5 separate regions of the Homo sapiens genome follow, and regions 2, 3, 4 and 5 are each reported to be linked to region 1. Evidence: microRNA targets listed by miRTarBase, many of them from high-throughput screens and not tested one by one. Region 1 holds a microRNA gene; each other region holds the end of a gene's coding sequence.

Region 1 (3,537 bases):
TGACCTCAAATGATCCGCTCACCTCGGCCTCCCAAAGTGCTGGGATTACAGGCGCAAGCCACCGCGCCTGGCCTTCATGTTGTTTTTTAATTCGAATTGTCTTTTATATATGATATTATATATGATATTAAGCATATATATAAATTCTTTTATATATGATATTAAGCATTTCCATTTATCCAGTTATTTCTGTAATCCTACATTATGTTTTATAAATTTTGTTTTCTTAGTATTTCATTCCCTCTGCTATTTGATAAAACTTACTTTCTCAGACTACATGACATGCTAGCTAATGGCAAAGGGATAGGAAATGGGAAGTGGAGGACATTATAAAATACCAATCACAGCTTCTTGACCAACGGAAGCAAGCAAAGTCTGTACTAATCCCCATTTATTCTTTATCCTGGTGTGTGTGTGTGTGTGTCTATGAAACATTTTCAACCAATTTCTTCTTTTTACTCTTGATGATTAAATTTGTTTGTTGGTGGTAAATTTTATAATTTGGTCCTTAGGTTACAGAATATCACGTTGAGATTTTTGACTGAACTAGAAGAATAATGAACATCACTGAGAAACCCAGAGATTGATCAGACTTAGCATCTTCCCTCTGGAGGAGAGTATGCATTTTTTATTTTGTTTTGTTTTGTGACAGGATCTCACTGCAGGCTGGATTGCACTGGTGTGATCTTGGCTCACTGCAGCCTAGGCCTCCTGGACTCACTCAGGCGATCTTCCCACCTCAGCCTCCCCAGTAGCTGGGACTACAGGTACCTGCCACCATGCCCAAGTAACTTTTCTGTAGAAACGGGGTTTTGTCACGTTGCCCAGGTGGGTCTCAAACTCCTGGGCTCAAGCGATCCTCCCACTTCAGCCTCCCAAAGTGCTGAGATTGCTATGCAGCGCCTAGCAAAGTACATATTTTTGTTTAAATGAGAGAAGCTGCATTATTTCAAGAGGGAGAATGGTGGTATAGCTACTGCTGTTGTTTGGGAGTATGGCTAGAGGTATGTATAAAAAATGTTGACTACTGGCCGGATGCAGTGGCTCACGCCTATAATCACAGCACTTTGGGAGGGTGAGGTGGGTGGATCACCTGAGGTCAGGAGTTCAAGACCAGCCTGGCCAACATGGTGAAACCCCGTCTCTGCTACAAAAATTAGCTGGGCGTGTTGGCGCATGCCTGTAATCCCAGCTACTCAGGAGGCTGAGGCAGGAAAATCGCTTGAACCCAGGAGGTGGAGGTTGCAGTGAGCCGAGATTGCACCACTACACTCCAGCTTGGGCAACAGAGTGAGAACCCATCTCAAAAAAAAAAACAAATGTTGACTACCAAGGTGAACCTCTGTGGACAGAACAGATTAGAACTCTGCATCTCCTTTGAGTATACTTTTGTGTTAGTACACTTTCCAGATTTCCCTGAAGCTAGGGTTCTAGATGCAAACTTAGTTTCTCCATCTAACTGCATGGTGCCAGATTTTTTCTATAGCAGTGTCTTGTTGTTCAGCCACTTGCTTTGTAGGTGTCAAGAGAGTTTTTTGTGGAAATAGTAGTGGCAGCAACTTCCTCACTGGTGGACAACAACTTTAACAGTGTGTTCTTGAAGTCAAAAGTCCAAGGTAGGCTTCCTGACTTCCTCTCTTCTTGGTTGGAGCAGAAGTAGTAGCATTTATGGCTGGTCCGGCTGGTCATGTTTATGGTGCAATCTTTCCTGGAGACTCATCATAGAGCCCTATCTAACCATTCTGTAGACATCTAGTTTCCTATATTAAATGCTTTCCTGCTTATGTTAATGTTTTTTGATTCTTAAATCCAGACCCTGATCGATAAACCAAAAATTCAAAATTTTTCTTTTTCCAGCTAAATTTCATTTAAATGAGTTGCTCAAATGTTCATTTAGCCTCTTTTCACTGAGTAAGAAACTTAGTTTTGTAAATAGTCTTTGGCATTAACTATCCTTGATTAGTCTGAGCATATATGATACAAAATGTAACGCCTCTATTCCCAGCACTTTGGAAGGCTGAGGCGGGAGGATCGCTTGAGCCCATGAGTTGGAGACCAACCTGGGCAACATAGGGAGACCCCGTCTCTACAAAAAAAAAAAAAAATTTATATATAGTCAAACAAGTTATTTCATCTCTTAAGGCAAAGAGCTCTCTGTCTGTGGTTCAACACATTGTTATCCATTGGGCAAAAATGATCATTGCCATGCTCTGATAGTTTTAAAATGATCAGACAGGAAATTCATTATATTGCAAACTGGTGTTCAGAAATGTTAGGATTTTCAGTATTTTTATTTTCCAAACATTATTTTAAAAGAACATTAAAAGCATTAGAAATACAAATCTTGCCTAATGGTTAACATACGAACAATTATTATAAAATGTTTAAAATACGTCACATACTTTGCATCACAGTAAGCATCAAGAGAACTAATTAACATATCCTGATAATTAATCATATTCAACTGAATTCTCATTACTTTTAGTTCTCATTTTAGCCCTTATGAAGAGATAAGTTATATATTTCTACCTCCACCTGTATCATCATGACACCTTTATTATGATAACACAGGTAGAAGTAGACATATATAACTTACGAAGAAAGAAGTTATGTCTCTATAGATATAGAGATATAGATACGGACGGGGGCTATGAATCGAGCCCACTATGTATTTCATGCAATTTATAACAATAATTTTTTTAACTTTTCTTTTGGAGATTATTTTTTGATGAGCATAAAGAGACAATACCTCATATGCACCTGCTTAGTTTTCTTTGTGCTGTAATTTTTACCTCCCAATGATGGGCCTCATGCCAGTCAAATCATCTCAAACTCAAACGTCACACAGAAAACCTGCCATTTTAAATTTTATAAATAGAAATTACTTTTGTGTTAATATTTTATTGTATCACATTTGAAATGCCTAGCCAATTTTTGTATTTTTAATAGAGACAAGGTTTTTTGCATAGCCAAAAAAATAGATATATGCCTTTAAAAATGTGATGCTTGATTAATGTTGTCTTCATTATAAAGCTGTTTGGCACACTGGGGTAAATACCAGGTTTTGAATTAAGACAAAAATCTAATTCCTAATTTGCCACAATTCTTTGTACGATCTTGGGAAAGAATATTAGATTTCTTAATTCTTTGTTAAAAAGAGATAATAGGCCAGTGCACTGGCTCACGCCTGTAATCCCAGTACTTAGGTAGGCCGAGGTGGGTGGATCACAAGGTCAGAAGTTTGAGACCAGCCTGGCTAACTTGGTGAAACCTTGTCTCTATTAAAAATACAAAAATTAGCTGGGAGTGGTGGTGCGTGCCTGTAGTCCCAGCTACTCGGGAGGCTGACACAGGAGAATCGCTTGAACCTGGGAGGCGGAGGTTGCAGTGAGCCGAGATTGTGCCACCGCACTCCATCCTGGGCAACAAGCATGAGACTCCATCTTAAAAAAAAGAAAAGGGAAAAAGGGAAGGAGGGAGGGAGAAAGGGAAAGAAGGAGGGAGTAGGTAGGCAAATCAGTCTAAAAGGTGAACTTA
Region 2 (3,000 bases), not on the chromosome of region 1:
TTACAGGGCCAGCAACATAGGTAATTTTATGGTGCAATTCAGCTACCAGACCATTTTCATGAGCTTGTTTGCTGGAGTGGGTATCATTAAGATGATTTCTAAATAAGGGCACAATGTGAGAGGAAGTGTGTTGGGATGTGGTTTGTTATCTGGGGCAAAAGGTGGGTGGTGAGAGTTCATTTGCTGATGTAAGGAAGTGCAGAGTTTTTTAATAGCTGCCTTTGTTTTGCTCACCTCCGACTCACCTCCTATATTCTCTTGCTGGAATGTAGCTATAAAAATTGATTTTTTTTCTTTTTCTTTTTTTTTTTTTTTTTTAGGGAGTACCATATTTTTGGGATTCAGTGGAAACTTTAAACCATCATGGACTAAGCTATTTACCAGTCCTGCTGGACAGGGCCTTGGGGTGCTTGAACAATTCATACCTTTGCAGCTGGACGAATATGGTTGTCCCAGAGCCACCACTGTCCGCAGAAGAGACCTGGAACTGCTAAAGCAAGCTTCAAAAGCACATTAGAGACTAACTGTAACTTAAGTGCTGGGGGAAAAAAAATGTGAACTAACTTATTTAATTTATGGCATTTTAAAATGACACTGTTAACCCAACGGAACCATTTTCCAGTTTGATACAGAATGGGGAGAAAAGAAAGCGTTTGAAATTATTGCTTGGATACCAGCTTCATGCACCTTCTAGTTGTACAAAATGTTAAAGACGTTGTTTGTATTTGTAAGGCTGGTGTATTCAGAGAGCAGATCTCTTATTCCTCACTTTCCACCCCCGTATTTTGTAATGACCATGAGCAATGTTTTTACTTTTTGTATAATGGGGTGGGGTGGAGTGGGGGCTTCTGAGAGTCAGCCTGAGGTCTTTAGAGGACCAGCTATTGTAGCACCTTGGATACTTGAAGTTTAATGCTCAGTTGGGTCGGGTGGCAGTTGACTTGGTGGCTGGCATGTTCAGCAGTGCCTGGGGCCCTGTTTCTGGGCAGCCTTTGAGGATTTTCTATGATATTGAATGACAGTTTTAAGTGGCAACTCAGGCCCAGCTCATGCCCTTTTTTGCCTGGACATGTGCTATTTTTATTCACTTATATATCAATTACTTGTAAGGGTTAAACTTTCAAACAGGAAGTATATTGGGACAAAAGGGCTCTTGGGGATTAGATATCCCTTTAATCTGTGACCATTGGGCAAAAAATTTTCCTGCAGCAAAAGTCTGAGGCTGTTGGGACCATTTTTGCAGCTTTAATCCTTAGCCTCTTTTGACTGTATATTTGTGTTTAAAATGCAGAGCTCAACTGAATATTTCCTTTTTTGTTTTGTTTTGTTTTGTTTTAAGAAGTAGGTTGTTTTCCTGAACCGTAAACTTGTATCATTTTAACTTGCACAAAGGAAGTCTGTTCTTGGTATTGCTCTTGCACTTGGGTTTTTTGTTATTGTTTTGTGTGGATTTTTTAAAGCTTTTCTGTTCACCCTCCTGCCAGGAAAATCCCAGAAAGCTTAATGATACCCCAAAATGATTACACCCAGGGAGGAAAAAAAGGAGCGCTTTCTAGGGTCAGAATCGTGGAGAGAATACTCAGAAATGAACCTCTTTAAAGCCTTGCAGGAATGAGTCACTCTTACTTAATGAAATGTTAAAGCCAATTAAAAAGCATGCTGTGATGCCCAGCTTCCCTTTCCACAGGGTGCATGCGTCTCCTGCTGGTGAATCACATGCGGCAAGAGGCAACTGGCTCCACAGCCTGGGATGCTGCCGTACCAAGAGGAAAGAAGCAGCAAAATGCCTTTACGTTGTTCTAAACCCCCGACGCATAAAGTGTAGAGGAGGGATGGCCAAGGGTGGGTGGTAGAAAGTGTGTTCAGGCTGACACTGGCAATGAGTACAGATAATTTCACTTTCCTCTTCTAGGGGCAAAGGCTGATGGCCTCTACCTTTGTATCCAGGAGAAACTGCAGAGCAGCCCTGTGACTTTACAAAATATGCTACCTCAAAGTGCTACCGATAAACCTTTCTAATTGTAAGTGCCCTTACTAAGGGCACATGTCTTAATCAAAGTTAGTTTTTTGTTTTCTGGTTTGTTTTTTTTTTTTGTATATTGATGAATGAGATCTTACCTATTAAATATATTATTGGATTATGGTTCCTGAAGGTCATTAGAGTGTGTGTGTGTGTGTGTGTGTGTGTGTGTGTTTTATGACTTAAATATCTTTACGTGTGTTTTTTAGAGCTTGGTTCTTTAAAGATTTGGAGAAGATATGTAAATTACCAAGGCACTTGGTTTTTCTGTTTTATATACTAATAATCAGGGCCTAAGTTAAATAAAAATATGTGTGCATGTATTTTATATATGTGTGTATGTGAATTTATTTATTATTTATTTTATTATTATTGTTATTATTTTTGAGATGGAGTCTCGCTCTGTCACCCAGGCTGGAGTGAGGTGATGCAGTCTCAGCTCGCTGCAACCTCCACCTCCCAGGTTCAAGTGATTCTCCTGCCTCAGCCTCCCAAGTAGCTGGGATTACAGGCACCCGCCACCATGCACTGCTAATTTTTGTATTTTTAGTAGAAGTGGGGTTTCACCGTGTTGGCCAGGCTGGTCTTGAACTCCTGACCTCAAGTGATACTCCTGCTTTGGCCTCCCAAAGTGCTAGCATTACAGGCATGAGCCACCGCGCCTGGCCTGTATGTGAATTTATATCTCTATCTATAAATTTAAAATTCCAGATTCCAGCTGTAAAGAAGTTACTGACGGAAGTGAGGAAGACACTTGGTGGACAGAATCCACCAAGTAAATATTGTAAGAGTAAGCTTCAGAAGGGCAGGGACTGTATTCTCCAAGGCAGAGGTTCTCCATCTTGGCTGCACACTGGAATTACCTGAGGAGCTTTAAAAAAAAATATAGAGGCCTGGACTTTACTCCCTTCCCCCCAGATTCAGATTTAATTGGTGTTGGGTGCAGCCTGAGCACTGGAATTTTTTTTAAAGCTCCCTGG
Region 3 (3,537 bases), not on the chromosome of region 1:
TTGTGGCAGCCAGAAAGTGAAGGTCTTTTTAGGAGGTGACATCAACAATGACACAAACACATCACTCTGCAACTGAAGGCAGGGAACCAGACTCCTAGGGCTAAGCAGAGATGTCAGACTTCAGAGGCATTTGGGGGACTCTTCAGATCCACATCCTCACTGAAAATCCAGGGCCTGTTTCTCTCCAGTTCACTACCGCTTGGGCAGCAGCTCCCACTGCTTCAGGCTGGTCTTTGCTTTCCAGAAAAGATGGACTCATGAGCACTTTTTCAGCCCCTGTATATATGGCTATTCTTATGCTCCCTTTTGGAGATGTCCTTTTCCTCGACCTCCCTTGCTTACAAATGGAATAGGGTGGGAGAGGGCCTGTGCCTGGAAGTACTCTTGCAGGCTTTTCTGTGGGGCAGCTGGAGGTGCAGGAGCTCTCCATAACTGCCTTCCTGGCCTTTGACTCATCCAGAAACAAAGGTAGGAAACTTGTGACCAAGTGAACAATGGGGCCAGCTGAGCCTGGCCCTGCTTTAAGGGAGGCAGAGATTGAACATTCCCCACCTGGAGTTCTGCTTCCACGGCCACTCTCTAGAACTCTATTTGCATCCTGTCTTTGGCTCTGAGGGCCTCATGTAGCTAAAGCTCCTTCAGTTGTATCCAGACCCCCTGGAAGAGGCCGGGCAAATCATCCACTTCTGCCCCCAGAGTCCCTCTGCCCTGCTCTGTAACTCTTTACCTTAATGGCACATCCTTGATCAACCCTGGCTTGGGCCTCAGTCATTTTCTAGCTACTGTAAAGGATGCCCCCTTCAATAAACATGCTATTTTAAAGTGGGGCATGCTTGGGGTGGGGGGTCTCTCTGAAGGAGTGACTGCATTGAGCCCAGTCCTTGAGCTTGGCAATGGTGTTGCTAGTCTGGTCTCATTCCTGCTCTCTCACAGAGTAGACTGAAAAACAGAATAAGCTGAGGTTAAGAAAGATGTTGCTTTTTGCATTGTGATGGTGCTGGTACTGAGAAGCATGCAGCATGTCAGCTGTCCCCAGGCTGCTCTCCACCACCTTAAATGTTTGCTTGTTCTTTTGAGCAACATTTAATGACACCCTCCCAAGCGTCAGCCACCATGCTAGGCACTTACCCAAGAGATGGGTAAGACATGGTTCTTGTCTTTGAGGAAAAATGCTAGGGGAGATGGATACATAAATAGGCCATGGTATACTATAGGTAAAGGTCAATAATAATAATGTTTAAAACGTGCCAGAAAGCACAGAGGAGTGTGTGACCTATTATGTTGTGTCTGGTGAGGAGTATGGAAGGAAGGTCATCAAAGCTGGTATGGAGGGGATAATTTTTGCACTCGGTCGAGAAGAGTGACCTGAAGAAAAGAGAAGAACAGCTGGAAAAAAAACTAGTGAGTGGAGGTCCAGCACTATGAGAGAAACTGTTTAGTTGGGGAGCCAGAGATGGAGTAGCTGATGGGCCACTTGGGGGAATGAGACTGAAATGTGAGGCTTCCAGCTAGGAGACCATCAGAAGAGTCAAGGAGAGCACAGCTCTGGAGCCAGCCTACCCTGGGGTTGAGCTCCAGCCCCATGATTTACTACCGGGGTGTCCTTGTCAAGTTACTTGTTCTTTTTGTGCTTCAGTTTCCTTATTTGAAAATGGGAAGGGTAATATCCACTTCGTATTTTTTTTTCTTTTTCTTCAGGACTTAAATGAATTCATACCTATGTAATACTGAGAACAGTGCTTGGCTCATAGTAAGTCGTATATGAGTTTTAGCAATGAAAGCAAACAATATCAATAACAAAACAAAAATGCAAAACAATGACAACAAAACCCACATGGAAATCAAACCTCTACAAAACTGATGAAGGCAGTGGCTGTAAAAGTGGGGAGAGAAGTCAAAATGGAGAGGGGATGTGCTCCTTCAGTGTTGTGCTAAATAACTGGGGATGCTCTGAAACACCCCTAATTATACTGGGGTTGGAAACCCCATTTGAACTGAAGCACTGAGGTGCAAGTTTACTCTTGCATGTGGTCACACACAGAGTAAGAGACTGAAGCAGAAAGCACATCTTCTCTCCTCATTCACCTGTGAGGTGGGTTAACTGTTTTCAAAGAGAGAATAGGGAATAGATTGTGCTGTACAGCAGCTCAGAGTTGGCATTTGAAATGGAGACTAGTAAGTCTGCCATTGAAGCCATGAGTTTTCTGTGTTTTTAAAACATCTTCAATCCATGTGGACAGCTCATTGAACAGGTGCCTGGTGACTGCCCCACACTGGTGAAAATCTGTGGGTTGGCTTGGCATGCATCTTATTTATCCAGAGGTACACACCCAGAGCACACTTTTGAAGGGTTGTTGGCTCTGTGCACAGGCATGTTGTGTGTGTGTACACAACAGTATGTGTGTATGTGTGGACAGATGCGTATATAATAATTCATATCTTCCCATTTCAAGCACTGAGCTAAATTCAGCCTATACTTTTTTTTTTTTTTCTGAGAAGCCTTTCCTACTTCTGTAAAAAGAAACTCTCATTCCAAAGGAAAGAATGGGAGGCTGAAGTTATTGAAAATGAGATGGGAAATGGGAAGATAGTCACTTTGCAACTCCAAATTCCAGGTCTGATGCTTAGGGTGTTAGTCATTAAGCAAATTCTTCCTGATAACCAATTACAGAGAGGAAAAAAGAGAGTAAGTTTTTTACTGCCCCCTACCTCCTCCTCCCCCGTGCCCCGCTCCTTACCCCCAACCACCAGTGAAGGTGTTTTAGTTCTCCCCAGCCACCTGAGCTAGGGGCAGGAGACCTTCCCTTCCAATAGAGTTCCTTGGTGAAGGTGACTTCTTCATCCACTGGATGCTTTCCCAGGGCAGTTTTGTTGATCCTCCAAGAACATCAAGTCACTGTGTATGAATAGCTCCCACAGAAGTGCCGAGTGTTAAAAGAACCCTTCCTCATGACCTGATGGGATGGGCGGCAGTGTGTCCACACTTGGGCCTGACGTTATACTTGGGGAAAGGGTGGTAGTCTGAGTGTCTCAGAGCAGGGCACTGGCTAGGTGTGAGGTTTCCTACTGCTCTGTAGGCTGCTCATGCTGGAGTCCTGAGCTCCACCAGGAGTCCCTCTGGGCTGCCGAGCAAGTGGATCTTCCAAGGGGCCCATCAGCCTGCTCTGCACAAGAGTTATAGGAATTGTAGAGCCCCAGCACAACAGTCAAGACCAGCATCACTGCAGCCATCATCCAGATCACTTGCCAGTGCTGACACAGTTTGGGATACATGACTTGTAAGAAATGGACCAATTCTTCAAGTTTGCTGTCAATGAAAAAAAATATGCAGAGGCTTTAGTATACTGGGCACACATATGATACACAGACCCACAGTTCTCTCTGCGGATAGCTTCCATGCTGTCTTGAGCAATAGTTCTCAAACTTAGCTGTGCCTAGATTGGGTTGGCAGCAATTGTTCAAAATACCCCAAGCATACTAAATGAGAATATCCAAAGTTATGGTCCAGGAATCATTGGCTAAATTTTCCCAGGTGAT
Region 4 (3,537 bases), not on the chromosome of region 1:
TTTCATCTCGAGTCTACTTAAGGCCCTCCTTCCAGGTTTCTCTCTCTCTTTTTTTTTTTTTTTTTTTTTGGCCTGAGAACTTGGCTTCATCCATGTATAGTTGATACTGGAAATGACGACCCCCTTCAGTAGAGACACCCCCGCCCCAGCACACACACCCCTCAGTGTAATCTGTAACCTCCACAGGAAGTAAAATAAGTGCAACATTCATCCAAAAGATACAATGGGGACGGTAGGAAGGTGTTTCCTCTTCCCTGGGGGTGAAGTGAACATCTACAGTCTAGGACAGGGGATCAGCTCTAATCCTAGAGGGTAAGCCAAAATAACTGCTAAGATTTTGGTATGACTTCGTAGTTGATAAAGCACTTTTATTATCCATTCTCCCATTTAACTTTTATAATACTGTGTGAAGTGAGTTACATTATTTCATTTTATAAATGAGGAAACAAATTCAAAGAGATAAATGACTTGCCAGGGCCAAAATCCAGAGCTAGATCTTGAGTCCAGATCTTGTACTCCTCTCATATTTCTTCTGAAACATTTAAAAGTGTACATTGGTTGTCAAATGTCAAACATTACTTACTTCATACTTTTTTCCTCCAATCTTTATTTCACAGTTGTTCAGGGGATGAAGGAAGCTCAGGAAAGGCTGACGGGTGATGCCTTCAGAAAGAAACATCTTGAAGATGAATTGTAACATGAATGTGCCCCTTCTTTCATCAGAGTTAGTGTTCTGGAAGGAAAGCAGCAGGGAAGGGAATATTGAGGAATCATCTAGAACAATTAAGCCGACCAGGAAACCTCATTCCTACCTACACTGGAAGGAGCGCTCTCACTGTGGAAGAGTTCTGCTAACAGAAGCTGGTCTGCATGTTTGTGGATCCAGCGGAGAGTGGCAGACTTTCTTCTCCTTTTCCCTCTCACCTAAATGTCAACTTGTCATTGAATGTAAAGAATGAAACCTTCTGACACAAAACTTGAGCCACTTGGATGTTTACTCCTCGCACTTAAGTATTTGAGTCTTTTCCCATTTCCTCCCACTTTACTCACCTTAGTGGTGAAAGGAGACTAGTAGCATCTTTTCTACAACGTTAAAATTGCAGAAGTAGCTTATCATTAAAAAACAACAACAACAACAATAACAATAAATCCTAAGTGTAAATCAGTTATTCTACCCCCTACCAAGGATATCAGCCTGTTTTTTCCCTTTTTTCTCCTGGGAATAATTGTGGGCTTCTTCCCAAATTTCTACAGCCTCTTTCCTCTTCTCATGCTTGAGCTTCCCTGTTTGCACGCATGCGTGTGCAGGACTGGCTGTGTGCTTGGACTCGGCTCCAGGTGGAAGCATGCTTTCCCTTGTTACTGTTGGAGAAACTCAAACCTTCAAGCCCTAGGTGTAGCCATTTTGTCAAGTCATCAACTGTATTTTTGTACTGGCATTAACAAAAAAAGAGATAAAATATTGTACCATTAAACTTTAATAAAACTTTAAAAGGAAATGTGCTGTGATGGCCTTTTTGTTATTGGAAAAGGAGGGAGGGATGGAGATCACTTCAGGAAGAAAACTAACCTAGAGGACCTAATCTAGGAGTCCTAACCTAGGACTCCTGCTCCTTCACCTCCCACATTCAAATGAGCACAATGGCTCCTCTCTTTTACTTTTTAAATACCTGAATTTCCTCTGTCCACACTATCACTGTTTTAGCACGGGGCAGGCTTTTTCTCTCTTCGACTATTTATTGCTATAGCCCCTTAACTTGCCTATTGGCTCTAATATTCCCTCCTCCTGCAATCGATCCATATCACTCCCCTGTTTAAAACCTTTCCTGGCTGGACACAGTGGCTCACGCCTGTACTCCCAGCACTTTGGGAGGCCAAGGTGGGCGAATCACCTGAGGTAGGGAGTTCGAGACCAGCCTGGCCAACATGGCGAAACCCCGGCTCTACTAAAAATACAAAATTAGGCCGGGCGCGGTGACTCACGCCTGTAATCCCGGCACTTTGGGAGGCCGAGGCGGGCGGATCACGAGGTCGGGAGATCGAGACCACGGTGAAACCCCGTCTCTACTAAAAATACAAAAAAAAAAAAAAAAATTAGCCAGGCGCGGTGGTGGGCGCCTGTAGTCCCAGTTACTCGGGAGGCTGAAGCAGGAAAATGGCGTGAACCCGGGAGGCGGAGCTTGCAGGGAACCGAGATCGCACCACTGCACTCCAGCCTGGGTGACAGAGCGAGACTCCGTCTCAAAAAAACAAAACAAAACAAAAACAACAAAATTAGCCGGATGTGGTGGCACATGCCTGTAATCCCAGCTACTCAGGAGGCTGAGGCAGGAGAATCGCTTGAACCCGGGAGGCGGAGGTTGTGGTGAACTGAGATTGTGCCATTGCACTCCAGCCTGGGCAACAAGAGTGAAACTCCATCTCAAAAAAAAAAAAAAAAAAAAAAAAAAAAAAAACCTTTCCAGCCATCTTTAAGATAATAGTATTAATGGTAGGAGATATTTGAACCTCAGTCTGTGCCAAGTACTCTTCTAAGTGCTTTATATATGTTATCCCATTTAGTTTCACTTTAGTACTCCTAACAGCCCTGTGATAAAGGTACTACTGTACTCCCAGAGTACAGAGGAAGAATTTGAAACATAAGGAAGCCAAGACACAGGATAAAGTCAAGATCTTTACCATGGCCTTTAAGAAGCTGCCTACTTCTTCAACCTCATTTATTCCCATTTATGTTTTTGCATTATGTGTTCTTGTGACACCAAATTGCTTTGAGTTCTCCTGACAACATGCTGTTTTATGCTTTTCTATCTTCGTTCATCTTGTTTCCTCAGCCTAAAATATGTTCTTTCTGTTCTTCCTTCATACCCATTTTGAGCCACTTCTTCCAGAGAGTCTTCCCTGATCTTTCTCATGAGGATAAAATATCCTTTCCCCAATACATCTATCATAGCCCTGGACCACTTTACATTGAAGTAACCCAATTGCACATCTGGGGCTGTCATCAGGTGGCCATTCTCCTCGAGGGCAGAAGCTAGTCCTCTGTCCTGTGTATCTAAAACTTTCAGGTGACTTGCCAAGGTCTATGTTAGGTTCTTTTCATCCATTCTCTAAACACCATCAGTGGTCCTGTGGGATAGGTATTAGTAACGTCATTTTAGGGGGAACTTTAGAGAAGGCAAAGACTAGCCAGGTTCTTTTGTTGTTGTTGTTGTTGTTGTTGTTGTTTGAGACGGAGTTTCGCTCTTATTGCCCAGGCTGGAGTGCAATGGCGAGGTCTTGGCTCACCGCAACATTGAATGCCTCCCGGATTCAAGCGATTCTCCTGCCTCTGCCTCCCAAGCAGCAGGGATTACAGGCACCCATCACCATGCTCATCTAATTTGTTTTTTTTTTTTTTTTTTTTTTGGGGGGGATGGAGTCTCGCTCTTGTCACCCAGGCTGGAGTCCCGTGGTGTGATCTCGGCTCACTGTAACCTCTGCCTCCTGGGTTCAAGCTATTCTCCTGCTTCAGCCTCCTGAGTAGCAGGGATTACAGGA
Region 5 (3,537 bases), not on the chromosome of region 1:
TGGAAAAGAAAACATTTTCTTTTAACTTGAGAAAATTTGAAAGCTACAGCCTTCTAAGGAAACAGGATACCTAACACACACACACACACACACACACACACACACACACACACACACACACACACACACACACACCCCAGCCTGGCTTTACGTAGCTCAATCCTGTCAGGCTAATCTAATCTTTTGTGACAGAGCAGCAGACCTGGTAGATCAAGGGGGAAAACAATAGTTGGAATTTATGTTTGTTGGCTTCAAAACTTTTGATTCCTGGGTCCCACTCAATATAATTATCATTAAATTGGTTGAAAGGTTAGAGAAAGGGAGAGTGCCAGTATGAGCTGGGGGTGGTGCTCACAGACAGAGGTGGTGCTCCTTAGGGGATCAGCCTTGAGTGCAGTGGCCCTGAACATTCACATGAATGGGCCAGATGACAAAAAAGAGAACATATTCAAAGTCAGCATTCATGTTAAGGGGTGGGGGCAGGTGTAGATAAATAACCAGCCAGAAAAGCAACCTTGGCAATTACATAAGTGATCAACACAAACAGGCAGACTTGTCTAGAAGAGATTTCATGTTTAGAAACAATAATGCACACAATCAGCAATGTAGCATTAATAAGAACGTGACATTGGGATGAAGAAATGCAACTTGTAGGAATTCCATAGTTCTAAACCTGCATTAACTGTATCCCTTTCCAAACTCCACAGCTAAAGATGGGAGGGAGAATATGGACAACATTCAAGGAAGAGCCACAGAAGTGATTGAACTGGGCTGGGACATGGGAATGAAAGACTTCTACAAAAAAGTTAAATGAATTAGTTTATTGAACTTGGAGATGGACACCCTTATAAGGGCAATAACAAACAAAAATAGAAATAGGTTTAAGTTATAACACACAAGAATAAAATTAGATGTAAAGACGACTTTCCTCAGTTTTAAGGTGGATAAGTGGGTTGTTAAATTATAACAGATTTCTCTAGGAGGGTCTGGTGTACTCCAGGCTCGCTGGGAGGCAGACCTGGATAATCTCTGAGTATATCTGTCCCCACCTGGCATTGTTGAGACCCTTCAGAGTACTTCTTTAGGTCCATGATTGAAAATTAAGAGGCAGCCAGTGCCTCCATTGTTATAAGGGCCATAAGGTTTGGTTATCTTTGATAAAGAGAAATGGAAACATATAACAGAGCTCTTCCTCAAGTCCTGCATTGGGAACATTAGCACACACCAGGACCTTTCCTATATGTAGACACAGTGCAGATTTGATCTGTGGTGCAGCCAAACTAAAACACAGGTCATGGCATTGTTTCCCCACTTTTGGTACAAACAAGCCCTTAATCAAGTCTCTAATCTAGGGACAGTAACATCGGCTATTTGAGTGCAGGCACCCTAGGTTGTTAATGTCTGTTTCCCAACACTATTCCATTCCAATATTTTTCTTTACCTAAAGTGGGATAATGATCATAAAAAAAAACACAATAATTTTCCTTACAACACTGCTGATAACTAATAATCACACAATTGCATGTAAGTTAATTCTTTAAATTTAATCAGTCATTTATAAAACTCCCCAATTAGTAAAAGTTGGCTTATTTTAACAGCCTTAAACATTGGCCACTATTTAAACAAGACATTCTAAAAAAAAAAGCAATCACATAATAGTTTATAGTCATTTACAAGTGGATGGTATACATTTAGATACAGAGGTAGAAGTTCACCTTTACAATGTTTCACTAATACACATATACCAAATTCAAGGCACAAAATAGTTTGCTTTACAAAAAAATACTGTAAAAATGTCATTTGCTGTTCTACAATGTGAATAAACCTTTCAAAAGAATCTTTACACCCTTCCATACATATGCCATAGAATAAGATTTCTTCCTCTCACTAATCATAGTTGGCACAAAAATGGGGACTTTTCAATGTAGAAGTTCCCATTTTTAAAAACTGTTCCTTTGCAGAGCTGCTATGTATTCTAGATAAGAGTCCATCCAAAGAAATGAAACACAGCAACTTCCTGAGGAAAGGGCACTTTCTGTATGCAGCAAAATTCATAGGTAGAAAATGTATGATCTTTTAGGATAATTAGGTCTCCAGACACTTAATGAAGTATATCAGAGATAAAATTAAAAATTCAAGGCTGGGTGCAGTGGCTCATGCCTGTAATCCCAGCACTTTGGGAGGCCGAGGCAGGTGGATCACAATGTCAAGAGATGGAGACCATCCTGACCAACATGGTGAAACCCCGTCTCTACTAAAAATACAAAAATTAGCTGGGCGTGGTGGCGCATGCCTGTAGTCCCAGCTACTTGGGAGGCTGAGACAGCAGAATCACTTGAAACTGGGAGGCAGAGATTGCAGTGAGCCGTGATTGTGCTACTGCACTCCAGCCTGGTGACAGAGCGAGACTCCATCAAAAAAAAAAAAAAAAAAATTCAACTAATACTTTAGTCATTGTGACTTTAAGAAAGAGACTTGGTCACCTTTACTGTAACACTCAGACATCATTTACTTCAGTTGATGGAGATTTCAAAATTCCTTTTCAAAAGAGCTAAACATACAAACACCATGAAAAAGTCACCTAGGCCTTGCAAAACGGAAACTTAGAAAACGTGAGAAAATACAGCACTATCAGTCCTTGAAATTGCGAAGATGTCAACTGGCTAGAGTTTAATAACAAGAATGAGTAAACTCTGGGAATTCTGAAAAATCACACACATGAAACATACAGTCTAGTTATCATTTCTAGACTTCCTGCTCATTAAAAAATAATGGTAACCTGAAGATGTCACACTGCTTCTCTACAGATTTGACTGGTTTCTGGGTTCTGCCTAAAAGGACCCTGTTGGCAACAACCTAAGTTCACTTGTACTGATCACATTTTCCAAGTACTCTAGTCGGTTAATTTACACTTTATTTTTTTAAAAAGTTGATTTAAAAAAGAAACAACACAAGTTTAGAATCCATAAAATGTCAGCAATGCTGATGTGCACTGGACTGAAACATCTTGATCATCTTCTGATAGAAGTAATATTCCATACAAAAAGATTCTTAGATTCCATTTTTTGCTTCATTATTGTTTGTGGCTTGCTTTCTTTGAGCAATAAAGGGGTACATACACTTGTCCGCTCCTAGGAACCGATACATGCACACAACTGCTTCAAATGGTAGGATGCTGAAAAAGGGAAGTCACAGCTGTTAGCAAACTTGAAGTTTCAATTAAGACATCGGGCAGGCATGGAGAGACCCAGTCAGTGAGGGAACCCCTCCCAGTTACCTCTTCATGAAGGTCACGATGTACATGAGGCGGGGAGTGCAGATCATGGGCTGGTCAGTGAGGATGGCCTTCATGGCCTGCTTCACACAGTAATCAGGCTTCAGAGGTGGCAGAAAAGGCTCAATTTCTTTCCTGAAAGTTATTTATTCAAAAACAAAATGAAAAATTAACACAATAGAAAAGACTGGAAATACATATCAAAACATTAACAGTGATGTTATCTGAGTGATGGGATTTTGGGTACATTTTGTTTTCTTCAT

Evidence for each region. The annotated mature microRNA hsa-miR-3682-5p reads CUACUUCUACCUGUGUUAUCAU and lies in region 1 at 2,560-2,581, opposite strand. An mRNA with a match to its seed (bases 2 to 7 or 8) in the 3' UTR can be bound and repressed. Matches are read on the target gene's strand: a 7mer-m8 pairs with bases 2 to 8, a 7mer-A1 pairs with bases 2 to 7 and ends in A, and an 8mer does both.
Region 2: miRTarBase lists CEMIP2 as a target of hsa-miR-3682-5p. Seed matches in the 3' UTR shown: 7mer-m8 at 1,338-1,344.
Region 3: the mRNA of IRAG1 is a reported target of hsa-miR-3682-5p. Seed matches in the 3' UTR shown: 7mer-m8 at 2,507-2,513.
Region 4: miRTarBase lists TXNDC12 as a target of hsa-miR-3682-5p. Seed matches in the 3' UTR shown: 7mer-m8 at 1,102-1,108.
Region 5: miRTarBase lists RDH10 as a target of hsa-miR-3682-5p. Seed matches in the 3' UTR shown: 7mer-A1 at 2,509-2,515 and 7mer-m8 at 1,075-1,081.

Annotation. Positions count from the first base shown.
Region 1 is chr2:53,846,611-53,850,147 of GRCh38, forward strand. It overlaps MIR3682 (microRNA 3682), which reads right to left and starts at 2,595; the gene lies at 2,512-2,595. The region is part of intron 1 of GPR75-ASB3 (GPR75-ASB3 readthrough); the gene reads right to left.
Region 2 is chr9:71,682,714-71,685,713 of GRCh38, reverse strand. It overlaps CEMIP2 (cell migration inducing hyaluronidase 2), which reads left to right. Exons shown (of 24, transcript NM_013390.3): 24 at 321-2,348. The coding sequence ends at 517. Among named protein-coding and RNA genes, the nearest start is that of CEMIP2, 84 kb to the left of the region's middle.
Region 3 is chr11:10,573,269-10,576,805 of GRCh38, forward strand. IRAG1 (inositol 1,4,5-triphosphate receptor associated 1) reads right to left here. Exons shown (of 21, transcript NM_130385.4): 21 at 1-3,307. The coding sequence ends at 3,064. All of the region lies in intron 1 of IRAG1-AS1 (IRAG1 antisense RNA 1), which reads left to right. Among named protein-coding and RNA genes, the nearest start is that of LYVE1, 6.4 kb to the left of the region's middle.
Region 4 is chr1:52,018,093-52,021,629 of GRCh38, reverse strand. TXNDC12 (thioredoxin domain containing 12) reads left to right here. Exons shown (of 7, transcript NM_015913.4): 7 at 618-1,499. The coding sequence ends at 697. Among named protein-coding and RNA genes, the nearest start is that of KTI12, 14 kb to the left of the region's middle.
Region 5 is chr8:73,322,551-73,326,087 of GRCh38, reverse strand. It overlaps RDH10 (retinol dehydrogenase 10), which reads right to left. Exons shown (of 6, transcript NM_172037.5): 5 at 3,278-3,409; 6 at 807-3,175. The coding sequence ends at 3,052. All of the region lies in intron 3 of RDH10-AS1 (RDH10 antisense RNA 1), which reads left to right. Among named protein-coding and RNA genes, the nearest start is that of RDH10, 30 kb to the right of the region's middle.